Regions from separate parts of the Homo sapiens genome. Here regions 1 and 2 are each linked to region 3. Evidence: fine-mapped expression QTL. A gene starts in region 3. Each other region holds a variant in brackets. All regions are shown on one strand. Distances are from middle to middle.

Region 1 (4,239 bases), 210 kb after region 3:
TGCCCGGCCTGTGTATAAGTTTTTGTTTGAATATCTATCTTCAGTTCTTTGGAGATATACCCAGGAGTGGAATTACTGGATCATATGGTAATTCTGTTTAATTTATTGAGGAACTACCACCTAAGCACTTCAAATATATAAATAGAGATGGGATCTCACTATGTTGCTCAGGCTGGTCTTGAACGCCTGGGCTCAAGCGATCTTCCTTCCGTCTCAGCCTTCAAAGTGTTGGGATTGCAGGTGTGAACCATTGTGCTCAGCTGACCTAAGCACCTTTTAAAGCACTCATGATCCTGGGGAACGCTCACAACAAGGCAATGAGGGAGGCTCTGTGCTGCCCCCATTCTGCAGATGAGGAAACTGAGGCTCAGAAAGCAGAATTCATGAGCCAAGGTTACACTGGTGAGAAATGATGATGTCAGGCCTGTTGGATTCCAAACCAACTTGAACCTAAAGCTGAGAAGGAAGAGTGTGAGAAAAAAGAGAGATTATGAGAGCAGTAACAAGGGTGACTTCGGTCCACACTTAGCCTCTTGAGTTGCCATCTGTGGAAAAGGTGAGGAAAGAGGTAAAAGTCAGTGTTTCTCTATCAAACTTGCATGGATTCCCACCCCCTCCTGCTCCGTCCTGGCTGAGTGAGGTTGGGCAAGCTGGTTCACCTCTCTGTGCCTCAGTTTCCCCAGTGAATGGTGCTAAGGAGAAAAACTCCCTCAAATGGTGAGGATAAGAATGAAATAAGGCCAGGCGTGGTGGCTCATGCCTGTAATCCCAGCACTTTGGGAGGCCGAGGCGGATGGATCACTTGAGGTCAGGAGTTCAAGGCGAGCCTGGCCAACATGATGAAACTCTGTCTCTACTAAAAATACAAAAATTAGCTGGGCATGGTGGCAGGTACCTGTAATCCCAGCTACTTGGGAGGCTGAGACAGGAGAATCACTTGAACCTGGAGGCGGAGGTTGCAGTGAGCCAAGATCATAGCCGCTGCACTCCAGCCGGAGAGGCAGAGCAAGACTCTACCTCAAAAAAAAAAAAAAAAAAAAAAAATTTAATAAGGCTGGCCTGCTGCTATGGTTATCAATGTTGTTATTATCCTTTTCTACACAAGGGTCCCCCCAGCCCCAGAATCCCATGCTCTTGTTTCGGGTGCAGCTCTGGGGCAAAAGGGAGTCAGGGACCCCCAGAATCTTCTCCCCAGGGTTGGAAATGTTGGGTGGCCCAGAAGTAGAAGTAGTGTCTACTTCAAAAGTCCCATGTCCATGCTACAACTGAATGTTCCAGATCAGAAAACAGCACATAGTTTTCCAGAAATGCTGGGACCTTATCTCCTCAGGAGTGAGAGTAGCCTGGACCCATTAATTCACCAGAAACACATTGTATTTTAGGCCAGAAACAATAATAACTGTGGCCTGTTAAGTGGATGTCAGAGAATAAAAATCTAATCTGAATTTGTAACTCTGTCAGAAGGAATGGGGTGACCGAGAATTCCACAGGCGAGTTTTCAACATGGACACAGGGTGGGGGGTCCCTGAGCCTCTCTGCTGAGGTTTTGCACAGATCAGGGCTTGTGGAGAACAATGGGGACATTCTTTGAGCACTTGCTGTGTGCCAAGGCACAAAACAACCCTGGGAGGCTGTACTGTTAGAAGTTCCGTTGTTCAGATGGGAAACTGAGGCCCAGAGAGGTGGAGACGGTTGCCCAGAGTTGAACAGCTAAGAAGCGGCTGAGATGGGGCTTGAACCCAGACAGTCAGGATCTGACTGGAGCCCAAACTCTGAACCACGTGTGTCTTTCTCAGGGAAGTCTGGAAAAATGTGGTTTAGTGTTCTGCACAATGAAGTAACTTGTTCAACTGAGGTCACTGGCTGATGGTGGGAGTCACTGATGGAGGAAATGGGGAGAGGGCCCAGGACCCCCCAGGAAGTGTCCCCTGTCTCCTTTGCTGGGTATTTTCCTTCCCTGACTCTTGGCCTGTTTCTTTCTTGGTGAGTGTATGTGGGGTGGGGTTAGTGAGAAAGGGAGACCCCAGCTCTGGCGTTGCGGGAGTGTTAGGATCCAAGGCCAGGCCTGCAGCCCTGGGTCCCTCCTGCCTGGGAGGTACCTGGGGAAGTCTGCAGCCTGTCTACACTGGTGAAGCCTCAGCCCCAACCAGCCCCCTGCCCTGCACTTGCCAACTGGGCACCGCCACTGTCGGCACCACATCCCCAGGGTGTGTAACAAGTGTCACAGCCTCACCCAGCCTCAGTTTCCTCCCCTGGAAAATGGGGATAGCCACGACACGTGGTGGGGAAGGTTATATTTACATGACCTGGG[C/T]TGTTACTCTTATTCCTGCCTCCAGTAAGAAGCCACGTGGAGTGTCTGCCATGCTGAGGAGAGGGCACCCCTGGCCGGAGCCCAGCTGGATGTCAGGCCTGAGGCTGGATGTCAGGCCAAAGCTGGCTCCAGCCCAGCAGCCTGACACGAAGGGGAGGGAGGCCTGAGTCGGCCAGACTCCTGAGTCACTGTTTCCCGGCTCTGCCAGGCCAGGCGGGAAAAGGGGGAGCGGGGCGGAGGGAGGGGAAGGGGATAATCTGGGGGAGGGAGGGAGTGGAGAGTGAGACACCAGTTGTAACCATTGTTGGGTGGGACAGACAGAAAGCCACCTGCCAGGGGGGCAAGGAGATTCTGGGGTGTCAGAGTGGGGTCCTTGCACTTCCCTGCATTATAGGCTGCAAACTCCTCCCTCCCTCGCCACCAACACATACACACACACACACACACACACACACACACACACACACACACACACTGCACTCAGCTTCACAGCTTTCCTTCTCTTTCTTGAGTGTGTTGACCAGGTTCCAGCCTCAGGGCCTTTGCACTGGCTGTGTTTTCTGCCTGGAACACTTCAAGGTTCTTTCTCAAATCTCAGGCTTCAGCTTAAATGTCACCTCTTCAGTGAAGCTGTCCAGGCTGGAGTGCAGTGGTGCCATCATGGCTCACTGCAGCCCCAACCTCCCCGGGCTCTGGTGATCCTCCCACGTCAGCCCCTCGAGTAGCTGGGACCGCAGGCGTGCACCATCATGCCCTGCTAATTTTTGTATTTTTCTGTAGAGATGGGGTTTTGCTGTGTTGCCCAGGCTGGTCTCGAACTCCTGAGCTCAAGTGATCCACCAGCCTTGGCCTCCCAAAGTGCTGCGATTGCAAGCCTGAGCCACCACACTGGGGCCTGCCTGAGCTTTCTTTTTCTTGAGACAGAGTCTCGCTTTGTCGCCCAGGCCAGAGTGCAGTGGTGCAATCTCGGCTCACTACAAGCTCCGCCTCCCAGGTTCACCACCCGGGTTCACACCATTCTCCTGTCTCAGCCTCCCAAGTAGCTGGGACTATAGGCACCCGCCACCATGCCCGGCTAATTTTTTGTATTTTTTTAGTAGAGACGGGGTTTCACTGTGTTAGCCAGGATGGTCTCCATCTCCTGACCTCGTGATCCGCCCGCCTCAGCCTCCCAAAATGCTGGGATTACAGGCGTGAGCCACCACGCCCGGCACCTGCCTGAGCTTTAAGTGTGCTCTTCCTACTCCCCCTCCCAATTCCTTTAGTTCATCCATTCATTCATTTATTTGCCCGGAAGGTATTGCGCACCTCCTTCGGGCAGGGCCCTGCTTTAAACAGTGAACAGAGTAGACAACCTGCCTGCCCTCATGGAGCCATCACTCCACCCAAGGAGATGGCACAATGAGCACACCGCACACTGGGCTGGAACAGGTGTCTCTGGAGGAGCCAGGCACAGGTGGGGGAGCCAGGCGCAGCTGGGGGAGTCAGGACATAGCGCGGGGGCTTTCCCTGTTGGAGGGGGTTGAGTACGGTGTCTCAGAAAGTGATGCCAGGGAGATCTGCAGGACGAATCGAAGGAAGCCATGTGGGTGTCTGCGGAGAGAGAGTTCCAGGCAGAGGGAACAGCCAGTGTGAAGGCCCTGAGGCAGGGGTGTGGTGGGCAGAGTCAAGGAGCAGGCAGGAGGCCAGTCGGGTGGGAGCAGAGTGGGCGAGGCCAGGAGGTGAGGCCAGCAAGGGGACGGGGCGGGCAGGTGGGGCAGGCAATGAGGAGGATGTGGCTTTTGCCTTGAGCCCCTGGAGGGTCCTGAGCAGAGGGGCTGCAGAGACATGGTCAAGTTCCAGGTGGGGTTAGGGCGAGAACTGACCTTCCAGGCAGACAGGCAGGGTCCCCCCACCTTGCCCCTGCCCTGAGATGAAGCGCCAGCCTT
Region 2 (4,239 bases), 930 kb before region 3:
CTTGCTTCAAATATTCAGCGTGGGGGAGTGGGTAGGAGTATAGCGAAAACCAGATGGGCCATGAGTTGATAATTGTTGGACTGGGTGATGGAGACTGCTTTGTTATATGTTTCCCTTTACTGTGGTGTACATTTAACATTTTTCCATAATAAAAAAAGAATTTAAACCCAGCAATAAATCCTTTCCAACAATTGCTTTTTAAAATGCTCCTTTTAATAAACTTGCTTTTAAGTTCAATTGACAGGTGGTTTTTATCATAACTCCTCCCTCATATTTTTGGCCTTTGTATCTACTGTCCTTATTTATTAACTTATTTTTAACAGTTTTATTGAGATAGAATTTACATACAATTCATTTTTTTTTTTTTTTTGAGACAGGGTCTCACTCTGTCACCCAGGCTGGAGTGCAATGGTACGATCTCAGCTCACTACAACCTCTGCCTTCCGGGTTCAAGGGATTCTCCTGCCTCAGCCTCCTGAGTAGCTGGGTCTACAGGCACCTGCCACGACGCCCAGCTAATTTTTGTACTTTTAGTAGAGACGGGGTTTCACCCTATTGGCCGGGCTGGTCTCAAACGCCTGACTTTATGATCTGCCCACCTTGCCCTCCCAAAGTGCTGGGATTACAGGCGTAAGCCACAGCACCTGGCCTACAATTCATCTTTAAGTGTGCAATTCAATGGTTTCTTGTAGTTGTGCAACCATCACTACAATCTAATTTCGGAATGTTTTCATCACTCTCAAAAGAAACCCCATCCCCATCTCTACCCATGCTCCTTTCCCCACCCCCACCCCCAGCCCTAGACAACTACTAATCTACTTTCTGTCTCTATGCACTCCCCTATTCTGTATATATCATACAGATCATCATACAATATGTTTTTTATGACGAGCTTCTTCCACTTAACATGATGTCTTCAAGCTTCATCCATGCTACAGCATGTATCAGTTCTTTATAACTTTTTACAGCTAAAGAATATTCCATTATTTTGATATACATTTTGTTTAGACAACCATCAATTGATGGACATTTGCATTGCTTCCAGGTTTGGGGTATTATGAATTATGTTGTTAAGAATCTTCATGTTGCTGGGCGCGGTGGCTCACGCCTGTAATCCCAGCACTTTGGGAGGCGGAGGCAGGCGGATCACGAGGTCAGGAGATCAAGACCATCCTGGCTAACACGGTGAAACCCCGTCTCTACTAAAAATACAAAAAATTAGCCGGGTGTGGTGGCGGGCGCCTGTAGTCCCAGCTACTCGGGAGGTTGAGGCAGGAGAATGGCGTGAACCCAGGAGGTGGAGCTTGCAATGAGCCGAGATCGCGCCACTGCACTCAAGCCTGGGCAACACAGTGAGACTCCGTCTCAAAAAAAAAAAAAAAAAAAAAAAAAGAGAGAATCTTCATGTTTCTATGAAGTTTCTATGTGTATGTATATTTTTGTGTCTCTGGGGTATATATACCTAGGAGTAGAATTGCTGGGTTAAATGGCAATTCTATGCTTAATATTTTGAGGAACTGCCAAACTGTTTTCCAAAGTGGCTGTGGTATCTTACATTTTTGCCAGCAATATATAAGGACTGCAACTTCTCCACAGCCTCACTGACACTTGTTATTATCTGTCTTTTATTTTATCCTCACTAGTGGGTGTGGACTGGTATTTCATTGTGGCTTTAATTTGCAT[T/C]TTCCCAGTGATAATAAATTTAATCATCTTTTCATAAGCTTATTGGTCATTTGTATATCTTCTTTAAAGGAGTGTCTATTCAAATTCTTTGTCCATCCTTCAGTTGGGTTGTCCTTTTTTTTTTTTTTTTTTTAGATGAAGTCTTGCTCTGTCACCCAGGCTGAAGCGCAGTGATGCAATCTTGGCCCACTGCGACCTCTCAGCCTCCCGGGTTCAAGCGACTCTCTTGCCTCAGCCTCCAGGCAGCTGGAATTACAGGCACATGCCACCACGCCCAGCTACTTTTTGTATTTTTTTAGTAGAGACGGGGTTTCACCATGTTGGCCAGACTGGTCTTAAACTCCTGACCTCAGGTATCTGTCCACCTTGGCCTCCCAAAGTGCTGGGATTACAGGCATGAGACACCGTGCCTGGCCCATTGTCTTTTCATGATCAAAACCACAAATAGAAAGGGCATTGTAAAAAATCCCACAGCTAACATCATACTTGATGGTGAATGAATGCTTTCCCCCTAAAATTAGCAACAAGACAAGATGTCTGCTCTCATTGCATCTATTAATTATTGTACTGGACATTCTAGCCAGGGCAATTACATAAGGGGGAAAAGGCATCCAGTTTAGAAAGGAAGACATAAAATTTTATTCTACTTTCAGATGTCTTGATCCTGTATATTATAAATGGCATGGAATCCACTAAAAATTGTTAGAATTAATAAACAAGCTTAGCAAAGCTGTGGGATATAAGATCAACATACAAAAATTTATCTCTATGAAGTGTCAATGAAAAATCAGAAAATAAAATTAAGCAAACAATTCATTTTACAATAGCATCAAAAAGGATAAAATACTTAGGAATAAATTTACAGAAGTACAAAACTTATGCTGTGAAGACTTGAAAACACTGTTGAAATATTAAAGAAGACCGAAATAAAAGGAAAGTCATTGCATTTTCATGGACTGATAGACTTAATATTATCAATGTAGCAATACTCCCCAAACTAATCTACAGGTTTAAAGCAATTCCTATAAAACTCCCAGCTGGGGCCGGGCGCAGTGGCTCAGGCCTGTAATCCCAGCACTTTGGGGGGCTGAGGTGGGCAGATCACGAGGTCAGCAGATCCAGACCATCCTGGCTAACACGGTGAAACCCCGTCTCTACTAAAAATACAAAAAACTAGCCAGGCGTGGTGGTGGACGCCTGTAGTCTCAGCTACTCGGGAGGCTGAGGCAGGAGAACGGCCGTGAACTCAGGAGGCGGAGCTTGCAGTGAGCCGAGATCACCACTGCACTCCAGCCTGGACGACAGAGCAAAACTCCGTCTAAAAAAAAAAAAAAAAAAAATCCCAGCTGGTTTCTTTTTAGTTGGCTGACCCTAAAATTCATGTGGAAATATAAGCAACCCAGAACAGCCAAGACAACTTTGACAAATAACAAAATTGGAAAACTCACAATTCCTGATTTTAAAACTTACTATAAGGTCACAATAATCAAGACAGTGTGGCGTTGGCATAAGGATAGACAGATAAGTCAATGGAACAGATTAAGAGGACAGAAATAAACCCTTACATTTATAGTCAGTTGACTTATTACAATGGAACCAAAATAGTTTGATGTGACAATATAATCTTTTCAATAAGTGGTCACGTGAAAACAATGAGTTTGGACTCCTTCATCACATCATATGCAAACAATAACTAAAAGTGGATCACAGACCTAAGGATAAGAACTAAAACTATAAACTTCTTAGAAGAAAACATTGGAATAAATATTTGTGACTTTGGGTAAAGCAAGGCCTTGTTACATATGATGTCAAAAAATATAAATGACTAAAGAAAAACAATAGATACATTGGACTTCATCAGAATTAAACACTTGTGTTTCAAAGGACACTATCAAGAAAGTTAAAAGACAAGCAACTGAATGGGAGGAAATATTTGCAAATCATATGTGATAAAGGGCTTATATCCAGAATATCTAAAGAATACAACCCAATAGTAAAAAGACAAATAAACCGGCAGGGCACGGTGGCTCATGCCTGTAATCCTAGCACTTTGGGAGGCAGAGGTGGATGGATCATTTGAGATCAGGGGTTCAAGACCACTACACCTGGCCTAAATCCTGGGTTTTAAATCTGGATAATGTCCATGCATGAAAGAGCCTGACCACCTGTGTTGGACCCCCAGGTCCATTATACCTAGCTGTGTGACCTCAGGCAAATTACTCAACCTCTCTCTGCTTTTGTTATCTCATCTATAAAATGGGGATAAATATAGTAGTACCACTTTTAGGGATGTTTGAGGAGTAAATGAGTTAACGCATATAAAGAAGAGCATAATAAGGAGTCTAATACTAGCCACTATCATCATCATCACTATAGGTCATTTGGATATAACAGATACAGCCCTGGTACAAACATTGTCCTGTTTCACTGTCGTAGGTCCAGCACCTAAAAGAGTGTGTGTGGCATATTGCAGGCGCTTAATAAATATCTCTTGAATAAGTACATGACAGCGAATACATGAATGAATGGATGAAGAAAATATGGGTATAGTAGAGC
Region 3 (4,239 bases):
AACCCCACTCTCAATCCTTTGTAGACCAGGTCATTCCCGCCAGGCTCTGTGCTAACGGAGGAGAGTAGGTTATTAGTCCCATTTAAGAGCCAGAGAAATTAAGGCAGTGGAGAGTAGCAGGGCTACTGGTTTAAAAACACTGGCTCTGTGCCTGAATCCCAGCCTTGTCATTTGCTAGCTGTGGGACCGCAGGCAAGTGCCTTGATTTCTCTATGTCTGTGGATAATGATGGTATCTACCTCAAAGCTATGTAAAGAATTAAGGAAACAATAGCCCAACACCACACCTGCAGGAAGGAAGCAAGTTTATTATTACTCAATAAACATTGGTGGATCCTGATGACATTCTCTCAGTCAGCTTTAGCAGTCTTAAGAGACTGCAGAGGATGGAGAACCCAAGGTTAGAGCCAGATTTCTTCTCTACCCAGTTCCTCGGGGCCAAAACCCTGACACCATGCTTAACTCCTCTTTTATACGCCATAGTCCGTCAGCAAACCTTGTCTTCAGTATGCGTCCAGGAGTCCAACCATTCCTGCCACCTCCACCGTATTACTTTCATCCAGACTGCCATCAGCTGTCACCTAGATTATTGCAAAAGCCTCCTTGCTGGCTTTGGGGCTTCCATCCTCTCTCTCTCGCCAATCCCCAGTCAACTCCCAACAGGCAGCAAAGCTTAGGTTACTTCTCAGTTCAAAACCCTTCTAGGTGTGCTAGAATTAACTGATTTATTTACTCAATGATTATTTATTATTGAGTGTCTACTATGTGCCAGGTACTGTTGTAGGCATTGCAGATAAAATGGAGAACAAAACAGACAAAAATTTCTGCATTCATGAAGCTTCCGTTCTCATGGAGGGAGATGGTTAACAAACAAGTGTATGAGTAAAACATATGGTAGGTTAGGTGTCATGTGGAAAAATAGTTTAGGGAAGGCGGGGGGCCTTGGATTTTAAGTAGGGTGGTCAAGGAGGTCTAACACACAAGATAAGGGTTAAATAAAAGGCCAAACGTAGGAGAGGTGGGAGCCAAAGAGCTACCCAGAAGAAGAGCATTCTAGATAAAGGCTCAGTAAGTGCAACGGTGGAAGTATTCCTGGTGAGTCTGGGACAATAGTGGAAAGTCAAAGTGTGTGGGAGGGGAGATATAGAGCCCCATGCCCCCCTCCCACACACTTCAGAGGGGAAAAGGGGGCAGGATTGAGTCCTGTACATTCCCCACGTTTTTTTTTTCTCTGGAGATTGGAAGCCATTGGAGGGTCTAAGCAGAGGAGTGATGAGTTAAGCTGCTGTGTGGAAGTCCGTAAGGAACAGGGGTGAGTCAGAGACCCTGAATGGAGCCGTTGCAATTATCCAGATGAGATAGAGTGCCTTGGATCAGGAAGGGAGGTAGCAACAGAAGCGGCCAATAAAGTTCAAAGTCCTCAGCCCCAGTCCTCCCGATGGGGGTCTCACCTACCCCTCTCACCTCACCTTGTTCCTCCCTGCATCCCCACCCCACCGGTCACTGCTAGGCACATAGAAGCATCTACTAAGCATGTGGTGAATCAATGAACCCCTTAATGAATGGTCCACCCCTAGATCATCAGCATCCTTTTTAACGCTAGGCATATAGTCTGAACTCAACACATGTTTACAGATGGAATGCTGCACAGTCCTGCCAAGTCCAGGCGGTTATTCCTCTCCACAGCCGAAGGAAACTAAGGCTCGGGTGGGGAAGTGTCCCCCTGGGGTCTCTCCGCTTAGGCTGCAGGCTGGGCATCCTTTTTCAAACTCTTTTAGCACAGCGAAGTCGAGGGCACTGGGTGGAGGGTGCTTGCTTGCCCTCAGGGTGAGTCACAGTGACCTCAGAGGAGTTTCCCCAAAACGTCCCCGCCCTGTGATGGGGAAAAGCCGGAATCTCTCGGTCCCAGGTGGTCATGTGGCCCAGGCCGGACAAGCGTCCCGAAAGCCCCGGGAGAGACTAAGAAGCAATCCTCCCACGCGCTTTCTCCCACCCTCGGGCCACTGAGACGGAGGGACAGAGGGCCGCCCTCGCGCGGCCGAGGCCCCGCCTCCCGCTCGCCCGCCCGCGCCTCCAGCGGAAGCCGGAAGCAAAAGCGGGTCCTGCTAGCCCCGCGGCTCCGAACTCGGTGGTCCTGGAAGCTCCGCAGGATGGGGGAGAAGATGGCGGAAGAGGAGTGAGTGGGCTTTTTCCCGGGCGGCGGAGGCGGCGGGGCTGGGCCCCGGCGGGTGACAGCGAGCGCCTCAGGCCGCCCTCCGGCCCCGGAAGGCGGAGCTTCTTTTGCTGGTTGGCCAGGACTGACCAAGCCGGTGCCTACGAGGAGGGCGGGATGGGCGGGCCTGGGCCCAGGTGGGCCTTGCTTTCCCCTGGAGATCGGTCCCTCGAGCTGGGAATCTACTGCCCAGCGCAGGCCCGGAGAGCTGTCTTGCGGAAAATACAAACCATATTTACTTTCCCAGTTTTCGGTAATCTCATGGTTACTGAGCCCTCTTCCGCCTCCTCCAGGAAGTCGTCCGGGTTCTCCACACCCACCTCCTACGTAGCCAGTCGCCTCCTGTATAACGATCAGTTTTCATGTCTTTCTCCTTCACTAAGTTTCATTTAGTCATTAACTGTTAGCCATCTACTCAATTCCAGGCCCTGGGCAGGTGGTAGGAAAGGAGGCCGACCAGGAGCCGCTCTCTGGGAGCTTCCATTCTAGTGGGAAAAGAAGACCATAATTAGTCAAGGTGGTTTCAGATCGTGATTAATTAACGTTATTTGTGCCTAGTGTTCCATTATTGGAACGCTAAGCATGTGGGAGTTATTTATATCCTACTGCTCAAGGTCATCGCCAAGGTCTGATTTTTCTCACGTCTGCAGTTCTAAAAATTGCAACCTCTGGCATGAATGGGTTAAGTGTTCTGAAGGAAGCAAAATAGAGTTAAGGTTGGGGAGTCCACTCAGGAAAAAGTGACATTCAGCAGAAACTTGAATGACCAGAATGAGGGATAGGAGAAATAACATCAGGTTCAAAAGGCCTGGCTCAAGAAAGAGTTTAGTGCTTTTGAGTGACAGGCAGCATGGCTGGTGTGTAGAGAGGAAGGGGGTTAGCTGGACAAGGGGAGATGGGGAAGGACGGGCTGTGTCCTCCAGGTACTTTTGGGCAAGTCCAAAAGTCATCTCCATACCTGCAGGGCAGAGTCTGTTGCAGATTGTAGATGCCCTATCACTGTTTGTGGAATGAGTATGTGAAGATGAATAAGGAACCCCTTCATTGATACTGGAGTCCTTCACCTGATAACTTTTCAAATATATTTCTTGGCCATGTGGGGGTCATTTCATGTAATCAGTTATTTATTGAGCAGCTGCTCCATCCCAGACACTAAACAGCCTCAGCAGCACAAAATAAAAGAGGCAATATAGCCCAGCGATTTCAAGTTTGGGTTTTCAGCTTGATTCTGCCACTAACTGAGATGTTGGTGAAGTTTTGCAACCTCCCTGAGCCTTAGTTATGCATGAGTAAAAAACGGAAAGTAATCATACCCAATCAGACATGTTATACCTATTAAATGAGAGGTAGTGTGTTACCTAGTTCCTGGAATAAAGCAGTGCTCAGAAAATAATAACTTTTGTAGTCACAGTAACAGTTATTATAGCAATATTGTACTAGTTCACAATCCCAGCACAGTGTGAAAGAGCTGTGGGAACATACGCAGTGGAGTGGGTAAATTCGGGTGTGGTAAGATGGGGTAATAGGAGGTGACATTTGAGCCGTTTGAAATCTGAGAGGGATTTTGTAAAGTAGGGTAGGGCATGCCCAGATCAACAACTGGGCAAATTGAGGTGGCTTCTTCAACTTGCAGAAATAATGCCAGGAAAATAATGTAAATTGGAGAAACAAAGGTGCTAAGTAAACAGTGTTGGACCTTGGAAAGTGATGAGACTCCAGTTTGCCTCCCTTTAAATCCCCCAGTATTTGCCAAAGAGCAGGCAGCATTTCATTTCTATACTAGCTCTGATTCCCTACCGTTCTTGTCCTCTAAGTGGCTGTATTCAAAAGCACCAGAGGCCACTGGTACCCTTGTGCTGTGCAGGCAGGGATTTTCTTAGTAAGTTTCTCTCGAAGGCCTGCCTGTTAAAGACTTCTGAATCCCATAAAGTTCTTGGACAGCTTCTCTTTCTGGTGTGAGGTGTGTGAATTGATGTTTTGGGACCCTTTTCCATTATCTAATTATGCTTTCTATGTCCTCCAGGAGGT

Alleles and levels. Positions count from the first base shown, and alleles are read on the strand shown. Sizes are in standard deviations (SD) of each study's normalised expression. Not every link is listed here.
For the expression in Th17 cells of the gene that starts at base 2,055 in region 3, T is the low allele of the variant in region 2 and C is the other (large effect, 0.85 SD a copy in Schmiedel 2018).

The links. PIP is the estimated chance that this variant, and not a neighbour inherited with it, causes the effect.
Region 1: its variant is the best candidate, but not a certain one, in a credible set for the expression of SLC9A8 in whole blood (TOPMed, PIP 0.90).
Region 2: its variant is the best candidate, but not a certain one, in a credible set for the expression of SLC9A8 in Th17 cells (Schmiedel 2018, PIP 0.86).

The regions. Positions count from the first base shown.
Region 1 is chr20:50,025,538-50,029,776 of GRCh38, forward strand. SCREEM1 (SNAI1 cis-regulatory eRNA expressed in monocytes 1) reads right to left here. Exons shown (of 3, transcript XR_936829.1): 2 at 4,177-4,239; 3 at 3,554-3,904. Among named protein-coding and RNA genes, the nearest start is that of SCREEM1, 2.8 kb to the right of the region's middle. RefSeq lists enhancers at 1,801-2,640, 2,641-3,478. The variant C/T (reference allele first, on the strand shown) is at 2,312.
Region 2 is chr20:48,881,135-48,885,373 of GRCh38, forward strand. It overlaps a transcript of PREX1 not described here. Among named protein-coding and RNA genes, the nearest start is that of ARFGEF2, 38 kb to the right of the region's middle. The variant T/C (reference allele first, on the strand shown) is at 1,684.
Region 3 is chr20:49,810,774-49,815,012 of GRCh38, forward strand. It overlaps SLC9A8 (solute carrier family 9 member A8), which reads left to right and starts at 2,055. Exons shown (of 16, transcript NM_015266.3): 1 at 2,055-2,175; 2 at 4,235-4,239. The coding sequence starts at 2,150. RefSeq lists an enhancer at 1,734-1,873 and a silencer at 2,024-2,303.